Linked DNA regions of Homo sapiens. The protein of the gene in region 1 interacts with the protein of each later gene in a pairwise test. Each region holds a gene or a part of one and is shown in the gene's direction. Other genes may lie near its edges.

The links.
Region 2: the proteins of CEP126 (region 1) and SPDL1 interact in a two-hybrid assay, tested with the Homo sapiens proteins (one large-scale study listed by BioGRID and IntAct).
Region 3: the proteins of CEP126 (region 1) and FAM118B interact in a two-hybrid assay, tested with the Homo sapiens proteins (one large-scale study listed by BioGRID and IntAct).
Region 4: the proteins of CEP126 (region 1) and OFD1 interact in a two-hybrid assay, tested with the Homo sapiens proteins (one large-scale study listed by BioGRID and IntAct).
Region 5: the proteins of CEP126 (region 1) and GSTO1 interact in a two-hybrid assay, tested with the Homo sapiens proteins (one large-scale study listed by BioGRID and IntAct).
Region 6: the proteins of CEP126 (region 1) and FEZ1 interact in a two-hybrid assay, tested with the Homo sapiens proteins (one large-scale study listed by IntAct).
Region 7: the proteins of CEP126 (region 1) and ING5 interact in a two-hybrid assay, tested with the Homo sapiens proteins (one large-scale study listed by IntAct).

Annotation. Positions count from the first base shown.
Region 1 is NC_000011.10:101,920,932-101,925,173, forward strand, and holds part of CEP126 (centrosomal protein of 126 kDa), read left to right. Parts: intron 1-1,709; coding exon 1,710-1,829; intron 1,830-4,242. UniProt on the Homo sapiens protein: Participates in cytokinesis. Necessary for microtubules and mitotic spindle organization. Involved in primary cilium formation.
Region 2 is NC_000005.10:169,586,229-169,590,470, forward strand, and holds part of SPDL1 (protein Spindly), read left to right. Parts: intron 1-970; exon of another isoform or gene 971-1,144; intron 1,145-2,144; exon of another isoform or gene 2,145-2,165; 5' UTR 2,166-2,188; coding exon 2,189-2,347; intron 2,348-2,370; exon of another isoform or gene 2,371-4,242. UniProt on the Homo sapiens protein: Required for the localization of dynein and dynactin to the mitotic kintochore.
Region 3 is NC_000011.10:126,217,984-126,222,225, forward strand, and holds part of FAM118B (protein FAM118B), read left to right. Parts: intron 1-4,242. UniProt on the Homo sapiens protein: May play a role in Cajal bodies formation.
Region 4 is NC_000023.11:13,737,608-13,741,849, forward strand, and holds part of OFD1 (centriole and centriolar satellite protein OFD1), read left to right. Parts: intron 1-1,238; coding exon 1,239-1,307; intron 1,308-1,394; coding exon 1,395-1,425; intron 1,426-1,436; exon of another isoform or gene 1,437-2,606; intron 2,607-4,242. UniProt on the Homo sapiens protein: Component of the centrioles controlling mother and daughter centrioles length. Recruits to the centriole IFT88 and centriole distal appendage-specific proteins including CEP164. Involved in the biogenesis of the cilium, a centriole-associated function.
Region 5 is NC_000010.11:104,261,029-104,265,270, forward strand, and holds part of GSTO1 (glutathione S-transferase omega-1), read left to right. Parts: intron 1-1,950; coding exon 1,951-2,049; intron 2,050-4,242. UniProt on the Homo sapiens protein: Exhibits glutathione-dependent thiol transferase and dehydroascorbate reductase activities. Has S-(phenacyl)glutathione reductase activity. Also has glutathione S-transferase activity.
Region 6 is NC_000011.10:125,454,355-125,458,596, reverse strand, and holds part of FEZ1 (fasciculation and elongation protein zeta-1), read left to right. Parts: intron 1-2,490; coding exon 2,491-2,762; intron 2,763-4,242. UniProt on the Homo sapiens protein: May be involved in axonal outgrowth as component of the network of molecules that regulate cellular morphology and axon guidance machinery.
Region 7 is NC_000002.12:241,711,618-241,715,859, forward strand, and holds part of ING5 (inhibitor of growth protein 5), read left to right. Parts: intron 1-360; coding exon 361-454; intron 455-4,242. UniProt on the Homo sapiens protein: Component of the HBO1 complex, which specifically mediates acetylation of histone H3 at 'Lys-14' (H3K14ac) and, to a lower extent, acetylation of histone H4. Component of the MOZ/MORF complex which has a histone H3 acetyltransferase activity.

The DNA of each region.
Region 1 (4,242 bases):
ATTAAAAACAGAAGACTCATGAAAAACAGAAAATTACTCTGACAAATTTGATAAAGATACTTAATAATGTCAATTAAAACGCAACTAAATAAATTGGAGAAATTACTCATATTGCTACAACTTATTTAAGGAGAGTTTAATTTTATAAAATAAATTTCAAGTGAATAGATGATTAGGATAACCAAAATATTCCTCTTTTTCTCTGACAAGCTTCTGGATACACAGATGACTATACATAGTTTTCCTAGTGGTTTTTTATAACCACTAAGTCACTAAGTAAATAACTAAACTGTATTCCTAACCATTCTAGTTATATTGCTATTTGATTGTTTAATATTTGAAAATGTACTTTCCTACTATAGATTAAGGGATCTGGTGAAACATTTACTCCATCTACTTTCTATTAGTAAAATACAATCTTCTTATTTCATTTTCTTATATTCATGACTATGAGGGCAACTTGTTAGTAAGTACTCAAATATCTGTGTAATGAGGCCAAGCACGGTGGCTCACGCCTGTAATCACACCACTATGGGAGGCCGAGGCAGGTGGATCACCTGAGGTTAGGAGTTCGAGACCAGGCTGACCAACATGGTGAAACCCCGTCTCTACTGACAATACAAAAATTGACTAGGTGTGGTGGCACATGCCTGTAGTCCCAGCTACTTGGGAGGCTGAGGCAGAAGAATCACTTGAACCCAGGAGGCAGAGGTTGCAGTGAGCTAAGATCATGCCACTGCACTCCAGCCTGGGCAACAGAGTGAGACTCTGTCTCAAAAAAAAAAAAAAAAAAACTGTGTAATGAATGAAGATATACAGTCCTCTTTATCTGAAGTTCATGATTTCTTTTTTTTTTTTTTTTTTTTTTTTTGAGATGGAGTTTCGCTTTTGTTGCCCAGGCTGGAATGCAGTGGCGCAATCTCGGCTCACTGCAACCTCTGCTTCCCAGGTTCAAGAGATTCTCCTGCCTCAGCCTCCTGAGTAGTTGAGATTACAGGTACCCGCCACCACGCCCGCCTAATTTTTGTGTTTTCAGTAGAGACAGGTTTCACCGTGTTGGCCAGGCTGGTCTCAAACTCCTGACCTCAGGTGATCCACCCGCCTCAGCCTCCCAAAGTGTTGGGATTACAGGTGTGAGCCACCGCGCCCAGCCTGAGCTCATGATTTCTAAAAGTAGATTTTTTTTCTCCAGGAAAAGTGAGCTATATCTTACTTTCTAATACCAAGTCAGAATTTTTTTTTTTTTTTTTGAGATGGAGTCTTGCTCTTGTCACCCAGACTGGAGTGCAATGGCACAACCTTGGCTCACTGCAACCTCCGCCTCCCGGGTTCAAGCGATTCTCCTGCCTCAGCCTCCCAAGTAGCTGGGAATACAGGCATGCACCACCACGTCCAGCTAATTTTTGTATTTTTAGTAGAGACGGGGTTTTGCCACGTTGGCCAGCCGGGTCTTGACCTACTGACCTCGTGATCTTTCTGCCTCAGCCTCCTAAAGTGATGGATTACAGGTGTGAGCCACCGCACCCAGCCCCGAATTTTTTTTACATAAAATGTTTGCCAGTCATATACTAATGTGGGCACATACTAATTATTCCACAAAAACTATCATTACATCATTTGCATGAGGCTGTAGTTATATTTATCATATAGCACTGACAGTCATCCACTAAAGATGTAGACCATTGTTCTTAACTTAATGCTATCATTAGAGATATGAAAATCCATCTGGAGAAAAATTTAGAAGAAGAGCGCCAGATATTACTGCAGCAACAAAAAATATGTCGAAATCGAGCACGTAAATATTTTGTGGAGTCAAATCGGAGAAAAAAGTAAGTAATTGCACTTTATTCAGAAGTATAGAAATTCAAAGTCAATATAAAGTAATAGTTTCTCTACTTTGTAGCACTTTATGAAACTAAGTCATGGCAGTGTTATCTGTGAAACATTGATCAAGATTTGTGTGGCTTTGTAAATTTTATTATTGTTTTCCTTCCCAAAGCACAAGGGTGGTGGTGTATTATCTAGGTCTCTGACAGTAGCAGTCTTTTTTTGTCATAGAACAGCTTATTGCATTGTCATATACACTTCTTAAAATGACTATGAAATGTATTATCTTCTTTTTTTGTATCATTTCATGATTTCATGATGATTTTAAAATTACCAATTAATATTTAGTCTTTTGGTATATAGTTTGAGTTTAATTTGTTATTCACTTCTATATAATTTTTCTATATCTGCCACTTTTCATTCGTTCAATCTGAAAAATTGGAAAAAATATGAATAATGGTATAAAAATTGGAAAAATATGAATAATGGTAGCAATATGAATAACAGTAGAAGTGGTAGAAATGTTTTATAAGTGAATGCTAGAAAAAGGAGCTTTCTAGGGTAAACTAGAAACTATAGTAAAGAAAAAGTACAAATTGTTCAATCACTGCTTAACATTTTTCAGGATGTTTTTTAAATATTAGGCTTTTTTTGAGACAGAGCAGTTATGCCATTTTTTAATTGTTGTTTTTGCTACCTTGTCCATATTTCTACAATATATGAATAGCAGAAAATCCCTAGACTTTATTAACTACATCACTGGGCATATGTTAACAAATCCCATTTGGGGAATAAAAAATTGTTTACCTGTAATTTTTGCCTGGCATTATGTTTCTCTTCAGATTAACTTTTTTATTGTCTGATGTAGTTGAAATTATTTACTGAAATTTAGAATTTTATTTTGTATGCATAGGTTTCTGCTTTTCTCCTACCTTTGGGCTCCTGGCATCTATAAACGGCGTGTGACAGGTGTTCAGTAAAGATGAATAATCATATGTTGAAAGAGTAATGGACTTTGGAGTCAGAGATCTAGGAAATACTAGCTCTATGAATTAAAGGATGTCTGTTTAATGTCTTTAAGCCTCAGTTTTCTCATTTATGATTGGAATTAATTACATCTATTTCAAGGGATTTTGGTGTAGAGCAGAAAGGGTAGAAATAAAGTGGAATATTTGAGAATACATGTAAAAATATCAGTGTCTGACACATAGGACTTCTTATTTTTTATTATTAATGTTTATCAGTTGTTTATTTTACAATAATCAACTTTAATAGCAAGCCTTTATGGAATTTTATTAATAAATTTTCTATTTGTATTCTCTCATCAAATGTAAGAATTCTTATGTAGAAAATAACAGAAAAGAAATCTTGGTTTAAAATTCTAAGAGGCAGGACATTTTCCAATACAATATTATTGTGTTTTATTTTCCGTTACCCTAAAGTGCAATGTAAAGATACATAAACATTTCTTTTAAAACACTAATCATTTGTCTCTGTATTTCACCTTTTATAAGGGGGCTGAATTATTTGTGCACATCCGAATTTCAGAAGCTGTCTATGATTATGGTCTTCTTAACCATGCCATTGTCTATCAATTTATACTTTACATCATTTAAGTTTATGCTGTCCACTTACATTGTGGTCACAGAGGATTTTTTTGTTTTGTTGTTGTTTTGGGGCTGTGTGTGTGTGTGTGTGTGGTTTTTTGTTTTGTTTTGTTTTTTTGAGATGGAGTCTCACTCTGTCACTCAGGCTGGAGTACAGGGGCACAATCTCAGCTCACTGCAACCTCCGCCTCCCAGATTCAAACGATTCCCCTGCCTCAACCCCCCGAATAGCTGGGATTACAGGCACGCACCCCCGTGCCCGGCTAATTTTTTTGTGTTTTTCATAGAGACAAGGTTTCGCCATGTTGGCCAGGCTGGTCTTGAACTCCTGACCTCAAGTGATCCTCCCATCTCAGCCTCCCAAAGTGCTGGGATTATAGGTGGTTTTGGGTTTTTTTTTTAAATAGTATTTTCTTCAGGTAGAGACAGTCTCCTGCCATTTGTCAGTTATACATTGACATTGTCAGTGTTATGTGTCCAGCAGAAGTCAAAGGAAAATGTTCCTAGCATCAAGTTCTCTTTATTTTCATTAGTTGCTTTAAATCACACACATTTTTATTTTCTTATTATTTATTGCATTTCTATTAGCCAATATTTTTCTTGCATTGTATGCTTTTATCACATCCTCAAGTTTTCCATTCTCTCAGTCAGTATCTATACAATGGAGTCCCCTTTGTTTCCCTCCAAGTCCCCTTTGTTTCCGGCTCCAGTAGATGCTGGTTATCTTTTAGGCCTATTGCACAACTGGCATCCCAGAACTTTCTTTTATTGCTCTTAGGAGTTGGAGCCATAATTTTTTGCCTCTCAT
Region 2 (4,242 bases), on another chromosome or scaffold:
AGGAATTCAAGTTCAATGGCCAGTTCTCTGCTCTCACCTTAATTGCCTTAGCAGCAGCATCTGGCATGATTGATTACTCCCACCTCCTTAATACACTGTTTATTGCCTTCCAGGACAACACATACTCCTGGTTTTCCTTCTACCTCACTGGTCACTCCTGATTCTCCGCTGTCTTCTTCCCTACCTCATAACAGGGTTCAGTCGTTGGTCCATTTCTCTTTAAATACTTTTATCCTCTATAGACTGATAATTCTCAAATTTGCATATCCAGCCAAGATTCCTCTTCTCATATATCCAATTGCCTACTTGACATAGTTCATGTTCAAAACTCAAATTCCTGATTTTATTTCCAAAACATTATTTACATCAGTGCTTCAGCTGATGGCAATTCCATTTTACTAGGTGCTCAGGCCAGAAGACTTGGAGGCATTTTTTACTTTTCCCTTTTTCACACATCCCAAATTATATCTTTCAGAAAATCATATTGACCTTACCTTCAAAACCTTCAAAATCTGGCCATTTCTCACAGCCTCCTATGCTGCCACCCTAGTCTGAGCCATTTCACATGGTCTCTGCTTCCAGCCTTGTTCCCCTTCTAAACTAGTCAACATAGCAGCCAAAATGATTCTTTTAAATTATATCAGATCCTCTACTCCAGACTTTGGAATGACTTCCCATGTCACCCAAAGTAGGAGCCAAAGTCCTTATAATGGCCTGATTTGCCCACTCTCTACTATCTCTTAGCCAAATTTCACTCCCTGGGCTTCTTCCTGCCTTAAGGATTCCCCTCTTGCTGGAACATTCTTCTTCTAAATAGCTGCCTGGCTGATTCTCTCATCTTCTGCCTCCTGGTTACATCACCTGTCCCTTCTTCCCAGATTCTTATTCTGTTCTATTTTTTCTCATCTCCCCTTTCTAATTTATTAATATTCTGTTACTTACTGTTTATCTTCCCCTCCTGGAATGTAAGTTTCATGAGGGAGGAGCTTTTTTTTCGTCCATTTTGTTCCCTAATGAATCTGAACTGCCCAGAATGGAACCTAGTATATAAGGCATTCAAGAAATACTCGTTCAGTGAATGACTACATTGACTTGAGACATGGGGGAACATCTTGCAATGACCTGGTGCCCTTTGAAGGCAAAGGTGAGTTTGAGTCTCGCTTAGGAGGCTGGGACCAAATAGTAAAGGATAATTAGTAAGGTTGATTAAAGTGGAATGTTTCTATATATAATGTTTAAGTCTTTGTTTATAAATCTAGAATGAAAGCAACATCCTTTAATTCTTATGGATATGGTTTCTATTTTTGCATACTTTTATGAATAACTAGAAAAATACTAGTGAATCTCTTTCCAGGAAAGCAGATTTAATATATTCAGGAAGTTAACACTGTTGTGAAAAATTACAGACATGATATTTCTTACTTTACCTTATGAGCCTTATTCACAGCTGCCTTTTTATATTTTATGTGTTTATAGTACCCAGACCTTCCTTTTCTGGTGGTATTATTGTTATTATCATTATTATTTCTCAAGACAGTGTCTTGCTCTGTCAGTGCCATGATCATAACTCACTGAAGCCTCTAACTCCATCAATTTTCCTTCCTTAGCCTCCCAAGTAGCTAGGACTACGGGGGCTTGCCACCATCCCCACCTTATTTCTATTGATTGATTGATTGAGATGGAGTCTTGCTATGTTGTTCAGGCTGGTCTCGAATTCCTGGCCTCAAGTAATCCTCCCCAGTTGCTGGGATTACAAGCATGAGCCACCATACCTGCTACTATGAGGTTTCTTGATTACTTTTTTGTTATTCCCTTAATTTTGATTATATGGATAGTGGTCCAATTATGAGACCAAACTTACCTTAACATATTGGAAGCTTAGCATACAACAACTGAACAGTTTTCTGATGGTGAACTGTTTAGAAGCAAAATTAAATGTATTCTATTCCACTCTTTAATTTTTGATCCCAAATCAGTAACAGAATTGTCAGAACAGTTCTTGCTCTTGGAACAAGAATGCAAATTTGACTACTTATTAGTCAGGAAGAAAATTTTAATGTTTTTATACGACAGTAGTATTGAGTAGATATGTTTCTTCTGTTATTGATATTATTGCATGGAGTTTTTTGTATAAGCTTAAGTAGTTTTATTTCCTCTATTTACAGTTGGCTAAAAAAAAGAAAAGAACATGGAGGCAGATATAATCACAAATCTTCGATGCAGGCTCAAAGAGGCTGAAGAAGAGCGACTAAAAGCTGCACAGTATGGTTTACAACTAGTAGAGAGTCAAAATGAATTACAGAATCAATTGGATAAATGTCGTAATGAAATGATGACCATGACTGAGGTAGGACTCTGGACTCCTCTGTCTGCAAGAGTGTGCTTAGCTATTGAAGATTTGTCCTGTTTAGCAATTAATAGTAGTAGTAGTTTATTCTTTTCTGAAGATTTTAGATCTAGTTCCCGCCCTGCCCCGTCCCTGTTAAAAAAGAATGAACTAAATGAATTCCTGTTATTCTTTCCACCCTAGTGTATTCAGAGTTTGAAAGATCAAGTTATCATTACTCTCTTTGCCACATTTACTACCAGATTTTGCTTTGTCTGCACACTTCCTAGAAGACCTCACTTGTTTTAGACCTCTAAACATCTAAGTGCCCCATGACACTACACCAAGCCCTTAGTTCCCCCATGAAATCTAGGTTTGTGTTCAACTGCCCACTAATAGACTTCTCAAACTTAACACAGACAGAAGAGTGGATTCCCTGTCCGTTAACCAAATATTCTTTTACGATTTTTTTTAGCTTATTTAGTAAATATAATAGCATTCAGTTTCTTGAACACCAAAAATCTTTATATACCAAAGATTTTTGGTATATTTTTGGTTTCTTTATATACCAAAAATCTAGAACTTTTAGTCAATATCTTCCCTTTATTTCTCACATTTCACTCATTAATAAGTTCTAAGAACTAGACTACAAAGCATGTATCTTTGCTACTGGCACTGTAGTCCAGATCACCATCATCACTCCTAGACAAGTATTGTAGCCTTCTGGCCGGGTTGCCTGCTTCCATTGTTGCCATTCATGCCATTCATTCTTCACTCAGCGTCTAAGTGGTCGTGGAATAACACACCAAAGGTCATGCCACAGCCCTGCTAAAAACCATACAACAGCTTCTGATTTTATTTACAACAAAATCTGAGCTCCATCCTTGGGTTTGTAGATCCCTATGTGACCTGACCCCTGCCAAGCTTCTGACCTCACCTCAAACTGCTTTGCCTTGTTCTTGACTATACTGGTCCTCCCTTATGGGCTTTACACCAGCTATTGCCTTTTTTTTTTTTTTGAGTTGTTTACCCCTCACTGCTCTTGGGTTGAGTCCTCAGATTTCAGCTTTCATTTAAATGTCACTTCAGCGGAGAGGTCAGCCCTTACTATGTAATGTAAAGTTGCCCTGATTCACTTTTTTTTTCTTTTTTCTTTTTTTTTTTTGAAACAGGGTCTCACTCTGTCGCCCAGGCTGGAGTGCAGTGGCGCAATCTTGGCTCACTGCATCCTCCACCTCCTGGGTTCAAGAGATTCTCCTACCTCAGCCTTCCGAGTAGCTCGGGGTTACAGATGTGTGCCACCACATCCGGCTAATTTTTGTGTTTTTAGTAGAGATGGGGTTTCACCATGTTGACCAGGCTGGTCTTGAACTCCTGGCTTCACGTAATCTGCCTGCCGAAGTGCTGGGATTACAGGCATGAGCCGTTGTGCCCGGCCCTGATTCCACTCTTAATTATCTGCATTGCTAATTATCTCTAGATTATAAACTCCATGAGAGAGGGAATTTTGTATGCCTTGTTCACTATCCTGAATGCCTGCCACACGATTATTTCTTAAAAGAATGAATGAATAAATCTGGGTAATTTAGCAAATGCTCAGTAACATATTTAAACTTGAATCTCAACATTGTAAATATGGCAGGTAAAAAATATCTGTAGCAGGTAAAAATAACTAGTGATGGCAACCTTTGTGTTTCTACATAGTACTGTTGTAAACCAAGAACTGAGTGCAAAGTCATAAAGGCAAAGTAAAGATTACAAATATCACTAATAGAAAATAAAACTGTTATACTTAATCATTTTGAGTCATAACTTGTCAAATTTCAGTGTTTAACAGTTAATACTCTTTGTCTTCCTTTAAAATAAAATGGTTTTTGAGGGGAATATTTTATCATTTTTTAAAGCCTCTTGAAGGA
Region 3 (4,242 bases), about 24 Mb from region 1:
CAGTTTTATGATGTGTATTAACACCAGGGTATGGGTCTTTTACTCAGCTGTTGTGCTGGCTTCTCACAGACGGTTTTGATTCTGGAAATTCACGTCCTCTAGTTCCGGGATGTTTTCTTGTACTATTTCTGTGATTTTTTGCTCAATCTTTAATTTTTCTTTGATACCTTTTTGTAATATCCATTCTTGTTATGTGGATATGGTGGGCTCAGAGGGCCCGCTGGAGTATTTGAGTTTTCTTCCTCTCTGCACAGGCTCCACTTCCTTCAGGTGATGTGGGCCTTTGCACCTGTGCCTCTGTCTGGATGTGTCTTCCCTCAGATATCCAGCGACTTGCTCCCACACCTCACTTTGGATGAATCCACAAGTCTTTCCTTAAATGTCACCTCAGTGAAGAGAGCACTGGATTGAGAAGTGCAGACCCCCATCTCACTTCCCTGCTTTGTTTCTCTCCAGAAGCATTTCCCACCATCTAGCATCCCACATATTTATTTACTTGTTTCCCTCACCACTAAAATAAACATTCTATGAGGGCAGGGATTTTGGGTTTTTTTTTGTTTACCTCTATAATTCCAGCCTCTGAAACAGTGCCTGGCGATGAATAGATGCTTAATAACTTAAGGAATAAATGAATTATTTTATTGTGGGATTTCTTTGAATGTCTCATGATTCTGACTGTTCATTTCTGTTTTGTTTTTTGTTATTTTAAGTTCCCAGCGTGGGTCTTGTTGGGTGGTGGCCATTACTATAGGGTGGCTGGTATATATGGATTTTGTGTGTATGTTTGTACAAATGTATATGTTTGCTAATATTTCTTTAGCTGACAGTGCATTGGTTGCTGGGACAAGGATGGAGGCTTGGAGAACCTTTTAGTATGCATCTTTTGACATAATCTGTATTTTCAGTTCTTCATTGCTCCTGCTGATGTATTTTACTCCAGACCCATTTCAGATTTCGGTTCATTTTTCTTTAAACCTCTGGATTTGGGGGTGGAGAAAATAGATGAAAATAGGAGGTGAGGAAGAGAATTTGCGCATTAGTTAAATAGACTTTATGCCAATCCGTATTTTCAGATCTGCATTTAAAGCTTGCTTTCCATCTCCAAAAATTCATTGAAAAATTGAATGCTTATCTCCTGCACCTCACATTCTTGGTTTTATACCTTGAAAAAAGAAAAACTCCTCTGTTGCCATTTTAATAGCGTACTTTGAAAAAGATTAAGAAGTAAACACGTAAGGACAGAAGTTATCATGTTTTATATTCTTAGTGTCATGGAATGCAGCACAGGAATATCACATAAGGAAAAGCACAGATTTCTTGTTTTCCTCGTTTATTTTGGAAGCTTATCCTTCAGCTCTTGTTTATCTTTTTTTTTTTTTTTTTTTTTTTTTTTTTTTTTTTTTTTTGAGAGTCTCTCTCTGTTGCCCAGACTGGAGTGGGCATGATCATGACTCACTGCAGCCTCGACCTCCTGGGTTCAAGCAATCCTCCCACCTCAGCCTCCCAAGTAGCTGGGACCATAGGCATATGCCACCACATCTGGCTAAGTTTTTTATTTTTGTAGAGACAGGGTCTCCCTATTGTTTATATGCCTTAAGAGTCAAATTAACAGAGTACATAAGAAACACTCTCTTTTTAGCTCTCTTGCTAAGGAGCAGGTTTGAGATCTGTTGCCAGAACTTAGTACTTCGCAGTTTTATGGATTCCTCAGGAGTCTCGTCCATGGGGCTGGGGCGTGGCTACCCTCTGCTGACTCTTCCTAGGTTCCTGCTCTTCCCCAGCACCTCCCTACCCCCAGCCACTAGAAATAGACTGCTTCTTTCTTTCTTCTACTGCAGAAAACATGCACTACTGTACTTATTAAAATTAACTTAAAAAAAAAAAAAAAGCAGCTCGAGCTGCTTGAGTTTTTTTTTTAAGTTAATTTTAATAAGACATTGAAGGAAGAATTTTTTTTAAAGGGGGGGCTTATATGTATGGAGATTTATGGTGTGAAAGCAGGGGCAAACTCTAATGAATGAAGTTTTTAGAATTGATATGAACATGAACCCAAGATACTCAGACTTATTCCGAGAGTTCCTCTTAAAAACTGCTTTTCTCCACATAAATCCGAATGTCAGCAGTGGTTAGCTCCACGTTGGAGGAAGGGGGGCTTCATTTTGCTCTTTCTGCATATTTCCTGCAGTGATCTGTTACTTTCAAATCTGGGGGAAAGGTGCTCTCTTTTTCTGAATGAAGTCTCCACCTGCCTCCCTTGGGCCCAGGCTGCCCAGCTTTCTGGCTGCTCCCTGAGAGTCCTCCTTGGTCTTCCACTGACCTCCTTCACTTCCTTATGAAAGTATGTTTTTAGTCTCCCTAACCTGCTTTCTGTTTTCTCTCTCTCTCTTTTTTTTTTAATACCCTCAATTGTTTTCACTGGCCACTTTTTTTTTAAGACTGATGCTTGGCTGGGCTTGGTGGCCCATGCCTGTAATCCCAACACTTTGGGAGGCCAGGGCAAGAGGATTGCTTGACAAGGCCAGGAGTTCAAGATCAGCCTGGTCAACATAGCAAGAGCCCATCTCTACAACAAAATTTAAAAATTAGCCAGGTGTGGTGGTGCGCACCTGTAGTCCCAGCTGCTTAGGAGGCTGAGATAGGAGGATCCCTTGAGCCCCAGAGTTTGATGCTGCAGTGAACCATGATCTTGCCGTCCTGGGGAACAGAGCAAGACTGTCTCAAACAAAAAAGACTGATGCTACCTGCTTGGCAAAACCATGTTTTTAGAGCTATTTCTCCTAAGAAACCTGGTCTTTGTAGTTGTTCTGATGGCTTCTGTGACAAATAATGCCTTTTTTTTTTTAAGAGCTTTCAGATTCTTATTTCAGATCTAAACAGTGCTTTTCAGCTCTCAGTTCATCTTCAGATCAAAGAGAATAGTAGGCCGGGCGCAGTGGCTCATGCCTGTAATCCCACCACTTTGAGAGGCCAAGGCATGTGGATCGCTTGAGGCCAGGAGTTTGAAACCAGCCTGGCCAACATAGTGAAACCCTGTCTTTACTAAAAATACAAAAATTAGCCAAACATGGTGGCGTGGGCCTGTAATCCCAGCTACTTGGGAGCCTGAGGCAGGAGAATAGCTTGAACCCGGGAGGCAGAGGCTGCAGTGAGCTGAGATCAAGCCACTGCACTCCAGCCTGGGTGACAGAGTAAGACTCCATCTCAAAGAAAAACAATATTAATTTTTGGCTAATTTTTATTAGGAAAAAGAGAATATCCTGAAAAGAATATCATGCTAGTTTAAGGTTACAGATTTACTTTCTTCCCTGGGTTCCCTTTGGTTCATATTCTCTTGTTTAGAAATGATCCAAATACATTATTCTGAAGTATATGACAGTTTTTCCAAAATCAGTAAATACATATGTTGGTGCTTAAAACAGAAAGAAAGAAATAATGGCCTATAAATATTATCACATAGCTTATTTCTACTATTCAGAGATCTGTATAACTTAGGATAAGGAGCAGGTTGTTGAACGGTTTTTTGGTTTTTAAGTTTGAAGTACAGTCTGAAAGTACCTTTCAATATTGAAGGGCTGCCTGACTGAAACTTACATGGCTATCTCCTGGGCCTGAAGCACCACCGAGATCTGAACTGAAGGTAGCGTTTTGGGAGTCCTTAGCGTTTAGTTGGTATTTTAATATCTAGGGGTGAATGGGGTGGGAAGGGAAGGGAGTATGTAAAGGGAATAGACTGGAGAGCCCTGCGGATCCTCAGCATTTAGGAAACAGGGAAGACCTCCCACTAGAGGGGAGGGAGGAAAACCAGGAAAAGGCAAGATGGACTTCAGTGTTGGGTGTTTCAGGAGGCAGAGGAGGATAAACACCAACAATTTCATTGAATTTTGCCATAAGGGTATTTATCTCCCATAAAGCTTTCCTTGATTTTCCTCAAGCAGAAGTGCTCATCTCCTTGGTACCTCATCCAGGCATGTGAAACTTGGCACAAACATGTTGTAAAGGTTTGTTTATAGTTCTGTTTCTCCAAAGGTGTAGACTTGTTAAGAGTGTGGCCCACGGCTTGTTCGTTTTTGTGAGATGGTATTGTTTTGTGTCTTAACAACATGAACACTGACTCCATGTCTAATGTGTAATAGTCGTGTGACCTTTAACAAGCTGCTTAACATCTGTGTGCTTCTGTTTCATTGTCTATACCATTTATGATATGAGATGATAATAGCATCTACCTCACAGAAGAGCAGATAT
Region 4 (4,242 bases), on another chromosome or scaffold:
GAGATCATGCCACTGCACTCCAGCCTGGGTGACAGAGCGAGACTGTCTCAAAAATAAAATAAATTTCACTCTTGGTGGTGTTCATATGTTTTTACTTTCTTTGTGTTTTCTGTAATTATCCAAAAGTTTCATATTCCAAAGTTTTAGTGACACAAGCTTAGTACAGTATTTGAATGAAAACTTAAATAATTTGCATTTCTTCATAAGCAACCAAATTTTATTTGTCAGCATTAGGAATTTATTTATTAATTTATGTTTTTGAGACAGAGTCTTGCTCTGTTACCCAGTCTGGAGTGCAATGGCGCAGTCTTGGCTCACTGCAACCTCTGCCTCCTGTGTTCAAGCAATTCTCCTGCCTCAGCCTCCCAAGTAGCTGGGATTACAGGTGCCCACCACTACACCTGGCTAACTTTTTTATTTTTAGTAGAGAGGAGGTTTCACCATGTTGGCCAGGCTGGTCTCGAATCCTGACCCCAGGTGATCTGCCCACCTCAATCTCCCAAAGAGCTGGGATAACAAGCATGAGCCCTCGTGTCTGGCCTGGAATTCATTTTTGATACATCATTCTCTAACTTTCTAATCACTTTATACTTTTACTTATTGTGTAATAGTCAATAATACAATTATATAGCAGGAATTAATCCTATTCATACAACTTAACGGTTTCTACTAATGTAAAATGCCCATGCAGAATATTTACTTTAAAGGAAAACCAATTGAAAACAAATATCAGTGTTCTCAGAGCAGACATAGTGAATGGTATATACTGTAGTAGAAATATATTTTAATAGCTACCCAAAATGTCTGTTAAACAATATTTTAAGTACACTTTAATTACGGTTTTAAGGACAGTAAAAATCTATTTACATTTTTAAACAATGAATACTTTTTAAAAAATTGTAATTGAATGACCCAGGAACTCAGTCATGTAGTCATTGGTTCATCAGATATTTCAGTGTCATCTGTAAGGCATTAAACATTTAGGCATATCATCTTTGATGTGAAGTACTTAGAAGTTAATTAGATGATAAAGATATTTTATCCTTTTGACCTTGATATGTTTATAGTAATTTATTTAACAGTGTAAGAAAGAGCTTGAAATTTGCTTTATTAGCATAGTTATAATCTTATTTAATCTGAAGGATGTTTCTTAATTTCATATTCAGAAACATATCCTAATTTATCATTTAAACACTGATATAAAAATATGTCTACTTAGTAACCTATTTTTTCTTAAGGTATTTACTATGCAGGATCTATTACAACTCATTAAAATCAACCCTACTTCCAGTCTCTACAAATCACTGGTAAGATGGCTTAGTTTCTGTAATCTACTTTGGTTTGTTAATTATAACTGAATAGCTGAATAAAAGTGAAATATTTTCTTTTAACAGGTTTCAGGATCTGATAAAGAAAATCAAAAAGGTAGGAGCCGTCATCTTTGTAGAGAACAGCAACAGTTTTCTATGTACTTTTTCCTCTAAAAGAATGAAGCAAATTTTTAGGGAGAAGAGTAAAATTTAATTTGATTTAAATTATTTGATTTCTGCAGGTCATTTCCCCTATATTTCCATTTTTGTAATAACTTTTAGATATTCAATTAAAAAAACTGTAGACAGTATCAAAGGCCCTACAGACAGGCTGAAAGATACTGTTTGTAAAAATACCCACTGTTGGGAATATTTCTGCAAAAAAAAAAAAAAAAAACTAATAACTTTTAGGCCAAGTGTCTTTGTATACTAGGTATCCCTCTCAAGTATAATTGGTAGGGTATTAGATGTATTAATATTTCCTTAAAGAATGAGAGTTGTGTTCAGTAATGTGTTATATATCTTTTGTTCTTAAATGTTTATACAGGCCGGGCGTGGTGGCTCATGCCTGTAATCCCAGCACTTTGGGAGGCTGAGGCGGGTGGATCACCTGAGGTCGGGAGTTCGAGATCAGCCTGACCAACCTGGAGAAACCCCGTTTCTACTAAAAATACAAAAAAATTAGCTAGGCGTAGTGGCGCATGCTTGTAATCACAGCTACTCAGGAGGCTGAGGCAGGAGAATCGCTTGAACCCGGAAGGCAGAGGTTGCGGTGAGCTGAGATCACGCCATTGCACTCCTGCCTGGGCAACAAGAGCAAAACTCCGTCTCAAAAAAAAAAAAAATGTTTATATAGACCTAATAAATTGCCTTAATTTTGGCCTTGATAATAGCCATTCATAGAGTCCATAACTACTGTGGGTTTCAGGCCATTGGTTAGACTTGATGATGGGCTTTGTAGCATGAACATAAGCTGGCAACTTGGCTTTGATGCATAGTTATTCTTTAGGTCTTTTAAAATAATCTGTTAGTAATAGTCCTTTTGTGTTGGTACACCCTTGGATTTTGTCTGTTGCCTGCACTATCATCCCCACAAGGACATTCATTTATTCATCCATTCATTCGCCAATTCATTTAGAACTTAATCATTTGAATACTTATTTTCTGCCAGCCATTAAGTCTGTGACTTAATCGCCAAGTCTCTTGGTAGTAATGTTAGCAGAATATAAATAAATTGGAGCACAAGATATTCTGGACTGCCCGCAAACTAGACCATCTCTACTGAAGTTCAGTATGGTAAATGATCCTATATTCTGTACTCTAAGTGTCGTCCAGTGTGACTCTCTGTGATTATGGAAATGTCTGTGTCTATGCTGTTTAATGTGGTAGCTGCTATCCTCATGTGGCTTTTGAGCCTTGAAATGTGGCTAGTGTGACTGGATAACTGAATTTTTAATTTACATTTAATTAGCTACACTTGCATAGTGACTACCATATTAGCATAATTCTGAGGTATATAGCTAGTATCTTTTGCTTAACTATTACTTCAAAAGGAAATTTGTGGCTTGAAGGGATATTAAGAAATAATCTATGGGCCAGGCACGGTGGCTCATGCTTGTAATCCCAGCACTTTGGGAGGGCAAACCTGGCTGATCACTTGAGGTCAGGGGTTCAAGACCAGCCTGGCCAACATGGTGAAACCCCATCTCTACTAAAAATACAAAAATTAGCCAGGCGTGGTGGTGAGTGCCTGTAATCCCAGCTACTTGGGAGGCTGAGGCAGGAGAATCGCTTGAACCAGAGAGGCGAAGGTTGCGGTGAGCCAAGATAGCGCCACTGCACTCCAGCCTGGGTGACAGAGCTGGACTCCATCTCAAAAAAAAAAAAAAAATCTATGTAGTTACTATAGATACATTATCCTTAAAAGTAGTTTTTCCATGGCCGGGCGCAGTGGCTCACGCCTGTAATCCCAGCACTTTGGGAGGCTGAGGCGGGCGGATCACGAGGTCGGGAGAGCAAGACCATCCTGGCCAACATGGTGAAACCCCGTCTCTACTAAAATACAAAAAAAAGTTAGCCAGGCCTGGTGGCGTGCACCTGTAGTCCCAGCTATTTGGGAGGCTGAGGCAGGGGAATCGCTTGAACCCAGGAGGCAGAGGTTACAGTGAGCCAAGATCACGCCACTGCGCTCCAGCCTAGCGACAGAGCAAGACTCCGTCTCAAAAAAAAAAAAATAGTTTTTACACAGTCTCTTTAAATGCATCTGGTTCAGAAAGACATCTGGCCGACAGCCCTTACCAGCTTCACCTAGCATCCCAGTAAAATTTCTGGAAGCCAGAAAAACTATGAGTAGCAGATAGGTCAGGCATCCTAGTGCCAAAATTTGGATAGAACTCTTAGCTAACAAAATAGCTCCTGGTAAGATAAAATTTTTTTAAAAATTGGTGTCTTCTAATTAAGTAACAGAAAACATGTAGGAAGATATTGTGTACTTAACCGTTGTCTGTCCCCTGACTCAGACCTATGGTCTTATCCTACCATATCTATGCTCAGGGGGTGCTAAGCTGTTGAATGGCCTTGGTACTTTTCCTCCTAGATTCTAGTCACCCATTCTTCCCACTGCTAATTTTCCTTTCAGAGATAATGATATCTGTTATGCGTGTCTGTGTGAAGAGACCACCAAACAGGCTTTGTGTGAGGAACAAGGCTGTTTATTCACTTGGGTGCAAGTGGGTTGAGTCCGAAAAGAGAGTCAGTGAAGGGAGATAGGAGAGGGGCAGCTTTATAGGGCTTGAGTAGGCAGTGGAAAGTTACAGTTAAAGGTGGTTATTTATTGTTAGCAGGGGAGGGGGTCCCAAGGTGCATGGTGGAGAGATCTTGGGACTCATTGTCCAGAAGAAGAATGTCACAAGGTCGATTGATCAGTTGGGGC
Region 5 (4,242 bases), on another chromosome or scaffold:
TAAAGAAAAATCTCTTTGGTCTGGTGCCAGTTCTGGAAAACTTTTTTTAGTATGGCTGGAATATAAAGTGTCAGGAGAAGAGATAAAAGGGGTAACTTTGGAGAGGTAAACAGGAACTGGATCGTGAAAGGACTTGTAGGACACGTCAGAGAAAATGAGCTTTAAAAGTAAAGCTTTTAGACATGAAGCTTTACTTTCATGCATAAAGCTACTACTTTAAAAAGTAGTCACAAGAGATTCATTGTACTATCTAGAAAGAAAATGAGATTTAAAAGTAATGCTGAAGATGCCCACCTTTACTTCCCTGCTTGGGTTTTAAAGGAGAGGTGGCTTTATGTACATATGACCCTGCTCTCCTGGCCACAGCCCATCAGAACAGAAATGTACCCCACCCCACACACCTGGGCCAGTTATCTTCTCTCCTGGGAACTTGGAAATGAGACACAGAACTAAGACAGTAAAGGTTAGGACAGTAAAGACAACTAAGCGTTGGGGCTCAAATAATGTTAATTAGAGGCTAGAAAAACCAAAGCCACTTAAGAAATAAATTTTTAGAGGAGCAAGAATTAAAAACATTGCAAAGGGACTGAAGTATGCAAAGTAATATGGAGCAGAAATGTGAGGAAAAACAGACGAAAGACCAGGCAGACCCAGGTGGAAATGTGGATGAAAGGGCTGCCTGAAAGCCTTCAGTCCCAGTGAAGGCAGGCTGAACTGATGTGGATGGGATTTCATGGGATTCTATATTTTTACAAGTGCCTGTTTACTTAAACTAGGATGAGTGGACTTCTGCGTCTTGCAATAAAATGATACCAAAGACCAAAGTATTAAAACACATAAACACCATCACGAGCATTAAAGCATCTGATGCTACACCCATCAAGTCTTTAGGTAGTCGGTCCCTTTTGAACAGTCTCCTGGTGTCCTCCCCAACAAAGAAATCAGAAAAATTTTCTTCCCTAGCTCTTTGCAGTTGGGGCCAAGTTTTGTGACCTAGGCTCTTCCTGTCAGACACACACATAGAGTTCAAATCAGAAACGAGCAAGGTAAGGAAACAGGCTTGGTGGGATATCTGCTTAAGATATTCAGCTCTCCACTGGTTTTCCTGGTGAGAGCAGCGGCAGAGCTTCTGGGTTTCAGCAGTGTGGGTTACAAGATAAAATTCCAGAGTAGAAATGGCATCAGTGCCAGTGGTGTTAGCAGTTATCTCAGACTCTACTTTCTGGCAGCCTCACAAACTGAAGCATCTGGTGCTCAGCTTGGACTGGCAGCAGTGAGTGCTTCCCATTAGGCCATTTCTCAGCATGAATTTGGGATGTTCTGTCTTAATTCCAAGCCTGTTTGTTCCGCCTCCCAATAATTCTATGAGCCACTCAGTCTCCTTTAAAGAAAGTTGTGTTGGCCGGGCGTGGTGGCTCAAGCCTGTAATCCCAGCACTTTGGGAGGCTGAGGCAGATGGATCACCTGAGGTCAGGAGTTTTCAGACCAGCCTGGCCAATATGGTGAATCCCCATCTCTACTAAAAATACAAAAATTAGCCTGGCGTGGTGGCGCACGCCCATAATCTCAGCTACTAAGGAGGCGGAGACAGGAGAATTGCTTGAGCCCGGGCAGTGGAGGTTGCAGTGAGCTGAGATCGTGCCACTGCATTCCAGCCTGGGTGATAGAGCATGACTCCATTTCAAAAAAGAAAGAAAGTTGTTTCTTAAACGTGCCAGGGTAGCTTCTGTTATTTGTAATTTATAAAATCCTGACCAAGCCAGCATTTTAGGCCACAAAACTGTTCCTAAGACCAGTCCATTACCTCTGTGAGCGCAGGAACTTGATGCACCCTTGGTGTTTCTAGAACACCTTGACACCAGGACTGTAAGGGTTCTACCATATTTTTATGTGAGGGGGCCGATACAGTTAGCCATAAACTGATAAACTAAGAAATTATTCTCTGTCTAGGTGCCATCCTTGGTAGGAAGCTTTATTAGAAGCCAAAATAAAGAAGACTATGCTGGCCTAAAAGAAGAATTTCGTAAAGAATTTACCAAGCTAGAGGAGGTAATTATTTCTCCTAGCTATCATCAGAGTAAACGATAACTATATCTACCCTCCTTTTCCTCCTATTCTTTTCTTTATATTCCCACTTTCCAAGTCACTTTAAGGTAATTAGGAAAATTCCCCTAAACATTTTTGTTTACAGCAGACTGCTGTTATAAAGCAGAAAGCTGTCCTGCTTAAGATATAAATCAAAACACCTAAACAGACTTTGTCATGGGCTTGCTTTTAAAATATTCTGCTAATGTTAAAATAACAAGGAAAAAGGAAATTGTACCCACGTTTCCACAAGTTTTTATGTATCCAGTTTTCCATGCTTGTTTGCAGTCCTTGTCCATATATTTAAAAAAAATTAATATAGCTCTAATCAGAGCATAGATATCATTCTGTGTCCTGCTTTTTTTCCTGTGTCCACTTAGTATTACATACTAAATATTTCCCACCAGAAAAAGTTTGCAATGAACAGTACAGACACTTGAGGGAAGCCCAGATGTATTTTACCTTCTTTTGGGGACAGCTGACATTTGGGCCTTGGAGTCTGTCTCTTGGCCTTGAAATATTTCATTCATGCTAAGCCTGAAGTTTTTACTGACAGAAGACATAGTTCCTGTCTTTCATGGGAATGCATTTTAACATTTTATCAGTAAGCATGATGTTTGCTGTAGGTTTTTCAGAAACCTTTTTTTCATTATAAAGTTCTCTTCTATTACTAGTTTGCTAATTTTTAAAAAAGTCATAAATGTTGAATTTTATTGAATGGTTTTTCTGCATCTGTTACATCTATTGAAATGTTCATAGAATTTTTTCCTCTTAATCTGGTGAATATGGTGCTATTGACAAATTTTTTTTTTTTTAATGTTTAACCATCCTAGCATTCCTAAGATAAAACCTACTTGTTCTCTATGGATTTTTATATGTACTGTAGAATTAGCTAATGAATGATTTTTGTATGTGTGTTCATAAATGAGATTGGCCTATAAATTTTCTACTCTTATAGTATCATTATTGGCTTTTGGTTTCAAGGATATTCTGACCTCATAAAATGAGTTGGGTAACTAACCTGTTTTTCTAATCTCTGAAACCATTTGGTAGGGACTAGCGGTTTCTTTAAAACATTTGAGCCTGGTGTCTTTAACAGGGGTAGATTTTTCATTACTAGTTTGATTTCTTTAATGGTAATTGGTTTTTTGGTTTTATATTTCTTCTTGAATCAGTGTTGGTACTTTTATATTTTTCTGCTGAACAGTGTGGGAGCTGGAAAGTAAGATGCAGTCCATATTCTTCAGATAATTAGTTTAGTAGTAGACAGAACACAGTAGGTAGATATAAGCAATCTAAAATGCATATTATGCATTGAAAAAAAACTATGGAGGTTATTTATAAAGGGCAAATTAGTTTGGTGGTTTAAATAGCCAGATAATATTCTCAATCACCCCCTTTGGCAAACCCTGTAACCAATTCGCCTTCTTAAAATTTCAGAAACATACAATTTGTGTTTTGTTTTCAAATGATTGTCATCTGTTTAGCAGTTAATCCAGTCTATTTCCAGTATATTTTAAGTACAAATGCTTTTGCACTTACAATGGGGTTACATCCAATAAACCCACCGTAAGCTGAAAATATCATAAGTGGAAAATGCATTTAATAAACCCAACCTACAGAGCATCATAGCTTAGCCTAGCCTGCTTTAAATGTGCTCAGAAAACTTCCATTAGCCTGCAATTAGGCAAAATCATCAAACATAAAACCATCAAACATAAAATATTTATAAAGTGTTGAATATCTCATATAATTTATCGAATACCTGCATCCAAAAGATGCTGGCAACACAGCACACTTTAGAGCATTGGTTGTTTACTCTCTTGATGGTATGGCTGCCCAGCATCAAGAGTTATCATACTGCAAATCGATAGCCCAGGAAAAGAGCAAAATTCAAAGTTCAAAGTAGAGTTTTTACTGAATGCTTGCTTTTGCACCGTCGTAAAGTTGAAAAGAATTTAAATTGAACCATCATAAGCTGCAGACTGTGCATTTTATATTGAAAAGTTAATATTTTTAATTTTTAATGCAGAGAAGTACCCAAAGCATAAAAACACAACACGTTTTCACAAAGCGAACACAGCCATGGAACCAGCACCCATATCAACTAACAAAATACTAGTTTGGGCTTTTTTGTACTTTATACAAATGGACTCA
Region 6 (4,242 bases), about 24 Mb from region 1:
GGAGGTGGGGGAGAGGAAAAGTCTCTTCCCTTATTTTCAACGGGGAGAATCAAGCCTCTCATTTAAAATTTGTATTTGTGCTTAGTCCATGCAGAAGCCATAAGGGGTGAAGCTAACATTTGAAGCCAGGTAGGTTAACTCCAGAGGCCATCCTCTTAACTCTCTGACACAGGTTTATAGTAATTATGACTGTGCACAAGAAACGGCTGGATGAAGCATGAAATGAAAAAGTGTAACACAGCAAAGGCAGAACAATTCACCAGCCGTAGGGTATCAAATGCCCACGCTGCAGAAGGGGCCCCATCCTAGGAGTTGATCCACCCATGGGGAGATGGGAACTTAGAAACAGGGGAGGGAGAAGGTGGGTTGGTCAGGGTTCAAAGGTCAACTGCGGGTTAGAAGTGGTGAAAGCAGAGGCAGAATCTGGAGGCCTGCATCCTGCAAGTCAGACTTTGGCTTTGAATAGCAGCGGCAGGAGGTGGCCGGCAGAGAGTCTGCTCGGTGCTGAACTGGACTTGGCTGCCTCGCTGCATTCCCGACTGCCCTTGTCAGGCCCTTCCCAGCCACACAAAGGTCCCAAAGATAGACGCGTTCAGCAAAAGACTTGTGAAAACAGCTGAAATGCAGAGTGAAATGGCAAAAAAACAGAAGGGGGAGAGGGCAGCTCCAAAGAGCAGAATAAGGGGAAAGCCCAACCAAGTCAGCAAATATCCGGGCAAAGCAGAAACAAAGAGGAAGAGGGAAATGGATTCTGAGGTGAAAGTGAAGGACACCATTAGACGCTGTACATTTGAAAATAACTAAAAGAGTATAATTGGATTGTTTGTGACATAAAGGAAAAATGCCTTAGGGAGTGGATACCTCATTCTCCATGATGTGATTATTATGCATTGCATGTCTGCATCCAAACATCTCATGTGCTCCATAAACACATACACCCCCTATGTACCCACAAAAATTAAAAATTAAAAACCAGTCAATCAATTAATTCTTCCTCCCCTGCCGCAAAAAGATACCATTAGATGGAGACACATTTTAAAAGATGTTTCCCAAGTATATTTTATTTTTTCAAATTATATATATGTGTATATATATACATATATACACATATATGTGTATATATACATATATATGTGTATATATACATATATATATATATATATATATTTTTTTTTTTTTTTTTTTTTTTTTTTAAAGTAGAAACAGTTTCACCATGTTGGCCAGGCTGGTCTCGAACTCCTGGCCTCAGGTGACCCACCCACCTCAGCCTCTCAAAGTGCTGGGATTACAGGTGTGAGCCACTGCACCTGGCCTAAATTTTTTTTTAAGTGTTTAAAAGAATTTTTAATCAGAAAATGCTTAAAGGGTATAAAGTTTTTATTTATTTATTTATTTATTTATTTTTATTTTAAGATAGAGTTTTGCTCTTGTTGTTGCCCAGGCTAGAGTACAGTGGTGTGATCTCTGCTCACTGCAACCTCCGCCTCTCAGGTTCAAGCGGTTCTCCTGCCTCACTCTGCCGAATAGCTGGAATTATAGTCAGGCACCACCATGCCTGGCTAATTTTGTATTTTAAGTAGAGGCAGGGTTTCACTATGCTGGCCAGGCTGTTTTCGAACTCCTGACCTCAGGTGATCCGCACATCGCAGCCTTCCAATATGCTGGGATTACAGGCATGAGCCACTGCTCCTGGCCTAAAGTGTATAAAGTTTTAAAGCATGATTTAGACCTGTATACAAGTATAATCTCAACTATGAAAATATATAACATGTAAACAGAAAAATTTGGAATAAAATATCCAAATCTATTTTAAATGAAAGAAGTCTTAGGAGACTTCTTAAAGTTATATATTTCCCATGATCTCAGCTTCCCTTTTCTTTCCTTTGAAAGTAGCTGACTGCCGTATGCTAACCCGCTAGGCTTTATTTTTTCATGCATAGTCACCAATCTTCCAGGTTTCACATATTTTTGAATACATGCACTGCGACACAGGACCAGAGATGTAAAGAAGGGCTCAGATGGTCGGCTTTTTTGTTGTTGTTGCCGTATGCTATATCTTGATCAGTTCTTGGGAATAAGCACCAACGTCTCTATTGCTCTTCAGTATGGATGACAAAAACCTCCCTCCCATCACTTTTCCATCCCCAATTCTTGACCCATTTCACACAAGGAATCTTATGGACACAGATAGAAAATAGAAGGAACAAACCATCCCCATTTTTGAGAATAGAGTCCACAGACTTCCTCGTGGGCTGTTTCTTCTTCCTCCTTTGTTTCCTGAGAGGGGTGTTCTCTTCTGCAGTCAGTACACAGGCCCCCGCCTTCCTGGCGTGCTCGTAAATTGTGAAGGTCTTTCTTGGATCTTTAAGGAGTTGGAAGGGATCTCCTCTGAGGGGCAGTCCCATCTTGATTGGTGGTGGCCCCAGGAGCCTCCCCAGCGGGCTCTGGTGTGGATGCAGGTGTTATGCGGGAGACGGTCTTCCCCTGCAGGGCTGAGGCACATGTCTGGGTCTGAGCTGACCGAGCTGCTGGACCAGGTGGAGGGTGCCATCCGTGACTTCTCGGAGGAGCTGGTGCAGCAGCTGGCCCGCCGGGACGAGCTGGAGTTTGAGAAGGAAGTGAAGAACTCCTTTATCACGGTGCTTATTGAGGTTCAGAACAAGCAGAAGGAGCAGCGAGAACTGATGAAAAAGAGGCGGAAAGAGAAAGGGCTGAGCCTGCAGAGCAGCCGGATAGAGAAGGGAAACCAGATGCCTCTCAAGGTAGGTGAACAACCAGGTGGAAGACTGGGTGCCTCCAACCTCCAACCCTGCCCGTTTCAGTGCCCTACCAACCCTGCAGGGGACTCATCAACGTTTACCGAGCAGTGGTGGTGAGCAGCACACTGTGACAGACAGGGGGTCAGAAAGGGAGAAGATATCACCTATCTCCTCCACTCCCCCAAAGGGCTCACAGTCTAACCCAGGAAGACAGTGTGTACATTAGGAAATAATTGAATTTGGCTTGTGTTCTCTGTAGGCAAGACCTTAAAGAAAGTGGAGTGAGGGTATTTCGTGTTGGGAGTCTTGAGATGGGCCTCAGAATTCTGGGTCCAAATCCCTCCTTGTGTCCCAGGTTCCAGTCCTGACTGGTCTCTTTAGGGCGTGCTAAGGTGTTTCAGTGATTGAAAATGATCAGGTGCCTTATTATTATTGTTATTATTTTTTGAGACAGAGTCTCACTCTTTTGCCCAGGCTGGAGTGCAATGGTACCATCTCGGCTCACTGCAACCTCCGCCTCCTGGGCTCAAGCAATTCTCCTGTCTCAGCCTCCCTAGTAGCTGGGATTACAGGTTCATGCCACCACTCCTGGATTATTTTTGTATTTTTAGTAGAGATGGGGTTTCACCATGTTGGCCAGGCTGGTCTCAAACTCCTGATCTCAGGTGATTTGCCCATCTTGGCCTCCCAAAGTGTTGGGATTACGGGCATGAGCCACCGTGCCTGGCCCCAGATGCCTTATTGTTCTATTGTTCTATTTTTGGGTTTAACCCAAACCCCTGGTTCTCATGGTTCATTTTTTTTTTCTTTTTTTTTTTTTTGGTGAGATGGAGTCTCACTCTGTTGCCCAGGCTGGAGTGCAGTGGTGCGATCTCGGTTCACTGCAATCTCTGCTTCCCGGGTTCAAGCGATTCTCCTGTCTCAACCTCCTGAGTCGCCGGGATTACAGGTTCACACCACCACGCCTGGCTAATTTTTGTATTTTTAGTAGAGACGGAGTTTCACCATGTTGGTCAGGCTGGTCTCAAACTCCTCACCTCGTGATCTCCCCGCCTCGGCCTCCCAAAGTGCTGGGATTACAGGTGTGAGCCACTGCGCCCAGCCACTCATGCTTCTTAATCAGGGGAGCTCAGTAGAATTATCTAAGGAGTTTTTTTCAAAATGCCTTTCCCTAGGCTCTATCACAGACCTATGGAATTAGTTCTCCGCATGTACATTTTGAAAAAAACTTCCCCCATCAGGACAGTTGCTTTAAGACAGCCTCTTCTGATAGCTGAACATTTTGTTTTCCCCTAAGATCTTTGCATCATGGTTCATTTAAGTTTGACTGAACTGCTTTATTTTTCTATTTGCATGATGGAGGATAAAAGGAGGAAAACTGGGGGATGCAGAGGGGTCTTGTAGCCCTGAGGGACTTACTAAGATAAGAGTTCTTGAGACTCTGTTTATTCTTGCAAAGCTCAGGCTTCAATTCTGGCCTGTC
Region 7 (4,242 bases), on another chromosome or scaffold:
AGGCTGGGTGTGGTGGCTTACGCCTGTAACCCCAGCACTTTGGGAGGCTGAGGCAGGAGGATCACTTGAGGCTAGGAGTTTGAGACCAACCTGGGCAACATAGCGAGACCTCATCTCAACAAAAAATTTAAAAATTAGCCAGGTGTGGTGGTGCACACCTGTGGTCCCAGCTACTCGGGAGGCTGAGGTGGGTGGATTGCTTGAGCCCGGGAGGTCAAGGCTGCGGTGAGCTATGATTGCTCCGCTGCACTCCAGCCAGCCTGGGAGACAGAGCGAGACCCCTTTTTAAAAACAAAACACAAAACTTGCCTTGCTTTAGAGAATTCTATAAAAATAATTTGCATCTTGATTATTTTTCAGAAGGCCGGGGTCAGAAAGAAAAAAGAGGGTCCCGGGGCCGAGGCAGGAGGACATCAGAGGAAGACACACCAAAGAAAAAGAAGCACAAAGGAGGGTAAGAGGCTTTCCCCTCTTTTTCCCAAAAGAACGAATACCCATAGCCTGTATCCCGGATGTAGGAACACTGATGGAAGCTGACCCGAGTGAAGTGCACCCCGTGTGCCGGGTGGTATTCTGATTCTTACGCTGCGCGCCTGTCGTCAGCCTGTCCTCACCGCAGCCTTTGAGGGGGTGCCGTTGTCAGGGGCATTTTCAGTGTCGCAGGGACCTGCCCAGGCTTTAGGGCTGCTGTGGTGCGGCTGGGCTGCACCTGGAGTCTGACTCCAGTGCCTGTCCTCTTAGCCACAGTGTGTGCTGCCCCACTAGGGACAGGAGGATGGTGAGCAACGTGTTGTTGACAGAGGCCAATGTAGACCACTCTTTAAGTAGCTAGATTTCTGTATATCTGTCAGTTATTTTATGTGTCAACATATAGTGTGCATATATTCATTGTTAATTATGTGGCCACATTTATTAAATAGACATGTCATTTAACTTGAAGTTTTTTGAGATACTTTATTTAAAGCATTCTCCCACTGACACCCTCCCTGCCAAAGGTGTTGTATACCCTCCAAAGAGATCGTAGCATTACCTCAGAGGAGTGACATTTAGACTAAAGAGAAAATGCTGAAATGCCACGAAGCCTCTGTGGAGATGATCTCACAGAGGGAGGGTCAAAGAGTGTAAGTTTTGGGCACGGTAGCTCATGCCTATAATTCCCGCACTTTGGGAGGCCAAGGCGGGAGGATCACTTGAGCCCAGGAATCTGAGACCAGTCTGGGCAACCAAGTGAGTCCCCCATCTCTACAAAAAATAGAAAAAATTAGCTGAGGGTGGTGGTGTGGGCTGTAGTCCCAGCTACTAGGGAAAGCTGAGCTGGGAGGATCATGAGCCACGATCGCACCACTACATTCCAGCCTGGGCCACAGCATGAGACTCTGTCTCAAAAAAAAAAAATAAAGAGAAAAAAAGAGTTCTTCTTGACAAAAAAGGGACAATTTTCTTTTTTTTTTTTTTTGAGATGGGGTTTCGCTCTTGTTGCCCAAGCTGGAGTGCAATGGCGCCATCTCGGCTCACTGCAACCTCTGCCTCCCAGGTTCAAGCGATTCTCCTGCCTCACCCTCCTGGATAGCTGCAACTACAAGTGCGCACCACCATGCCCGGCTAAGTTTTTGTATTTTTAGTAGAGATGGGATTTCACCATGTTAGCCAGGCTGGTCTCGAACTCCTGACCTCAGGTGATCCACCTGCCTCGGCCTCCCAAAGTGCTGGGATTACAGGCATGAGCCATCACACCCGACCCAATTTTCAGTTTTTTTTTTTTTTTTTTTTTGAGATGGAGTCTTGCTCTGTCCCTCAGGCTGGAGTGTGGTGGCGCGATCTCAGCTCACTGCAACCTCTGCCTCCCAGGTTCAAGCAGTTCTCCTGCCTGAGCCTCCCAAGTAGCTGGGACTACAGGTGCATGCCACCACACCCAGCCAATTTTTTTTTATTTTTTGTAGAGATGAGGTTTCACCTTGTTAGTCAGGATAGTCTTGATCTCCTGACCTCGTGATCCACCTGCCTTGGCCTCCCAAAGTGCTGGGATTACAGGCGTGAGCCACTGTGCCCAGCCCCAATTTTCAGTTTTTTAGCTAGTGCTTAGCCTTTTGGCCGGGCGAGGTGGCTCATGCCTGTAATCGCAGCACTTTGGGAGGCCAAGGCAGGTTAATCACCTGAGGTCAGGAGTTCAAGACCAGCCTGACCAATATGGTGAAACCCCGTCTCTACCAAAAATGCAAAATACTTAGCTGAGTAGTTGGCAGCTGCCTGTAATCCCAGCTACTCGGGAGGCTGACGCAGGGAGATTGTTTGAACCCGGGAAGTGGAGGTTGCAGTGAGTCAAGATCACACCACTGCACCCCAGCCTGGGTGACAGAGCAAAACTCCGTCTCAAAAAAAAAAAAAAAATCCCAACATTCTCGTATTGTAAAGTAGTGCACAGATACAGAAAACCGCACAGAACAAACATGGTTTAATTAATTTCCGTAAAGTGAAGATCTTTGTAAGTAGCACCTAGTCAGTGATTAACTGCTGCTGGAAGGCCTTCCATATGCCCTGTTAAAATCATAAACTCCTCCTGCCCCCAAATAAACATGATCCAGATTTCTATAGTGTTTATTTCCTTGTTTCTTTAATAGTTTTATAGTGCATTCCTAGACACTATACATTATAGTTTAGTCCTGTTGTTTTTCTAACCTTTTAAATTAACTTTATTAAGGAATAATTTACATACAATAAAATGTTATTCTAAGTGTACAGTTTGATGTTGCATTCAGTTCCTTTAAAGTTATGGAAGTATTCAGGCTTTCTATTTCTTCTCGAGTCAGTTTTGGAAAAAATCTGTGTCTTTCAAGAAATTTGTTTCATGTAAGTTGTCAGATTTTTTTGACATCAGGTTGTTAATAATTTTGCATTATTATGGTTCTGATGTGTCTGTTATGATGACCCCTCTTTCAGTCCTGATACTGGTAATTTATGTTTCTCTCATTTTGTCTTGATCCTTTTTTTTTTTTCCCTGAGGGCAGGGTCTAGCTGTGTCACCTAGGCTGGAGTGCAGTGGCATGCACATGGCTCACTGCAGCCTCCACCTCCCTGTCCCCAGGCTCAAGTGATTCTCCCACCTCAGCTCCCGAGTAGCTGGGACCACAGACATGCGCCACTATGCCTGGCTAATTTTTTGTAGAGACAGGGTTTCATCATGTTGCCCAGGCTGGTCTCAAACATCTGGGCTCAAGCAGTCCGCCTGCCTCAACCTCTCCGTGTGTTGAGATTACAGGCGTGAGCCACTGCGTCTGGCCGTCTTGATCTTTTTAGAGAACTAGCTTTTAGTTTCATTATTTTTATTGTTTTCTCTATTTTTTTGTTTGCTATTGCATTTGTTTCTACTCTCTATTTCCTGTTTTCTACTCAGGTTTACTTTGCCTATACTATTCTAGCTTTTTAAGGTGGAAGTAGCTTGCATAATTGATTTTTATATCTTCCTTGTTCTAATTATTATCTTTGTTGCACTCCACAAATTTTGATATATTATGATTTTGATATAATTTTGATATTGTTTTAAATTTTTATTTCGTTTACCTATTTAAAATATTTTAGAATGTTTTTCTTGTTTTTTGAGATGAGGTCTCACTCTGTCACCCAGGCTGGAGTGTAGTGGCATGATCCTGGCTCACTGCAGCCTCCACCTCCTGGGCTCAAGAGATCCTCCCACTTCGGCCTCCCAAGTAGCTGGGACCACAAGTGCATGCCACCATGCCTGGCTAATTTTTTATATTTTTGGTAGAGATGGAGTTTCACCATGTTGCCCAGGGTGGTCTTAAACTCCTGAGCTCAAGTGATCCACCCACGTTGGCCTCCCAAAGTGCTGGAATAGAATTTTTTTTTTTTTTTTTTTTTTTTTGGTGAGACGGAGCCTCACTCTGTTGCCCAGGCTTGAGTGCAGTGGTGTGATCTTGGCTCACTGCAACCTCCACCTCCCAGGTTCAAGCAATTCTCTTGCCTCAGCCTCCTGGGTAGCTGGGATTACAGGCACGTATCACCATGCCTGGCTAATTTTTTTTTGTATTTTTAGTAGAGACAGGGTTTCACCATGTTGGCCAGGCTGGTCTTGAACTCCTGACCTCAGGTGATCTGCCTGCCTTGGCCTCCCAACATACTGGGATTACAGGCGTGAGCCACCGCACCTGACCTAGAATTTTTTTTTTCATGCTACTTCTTTGCCCTATAACTTATGTAGAAGTATGTGTCTCAATTTCCAAATAA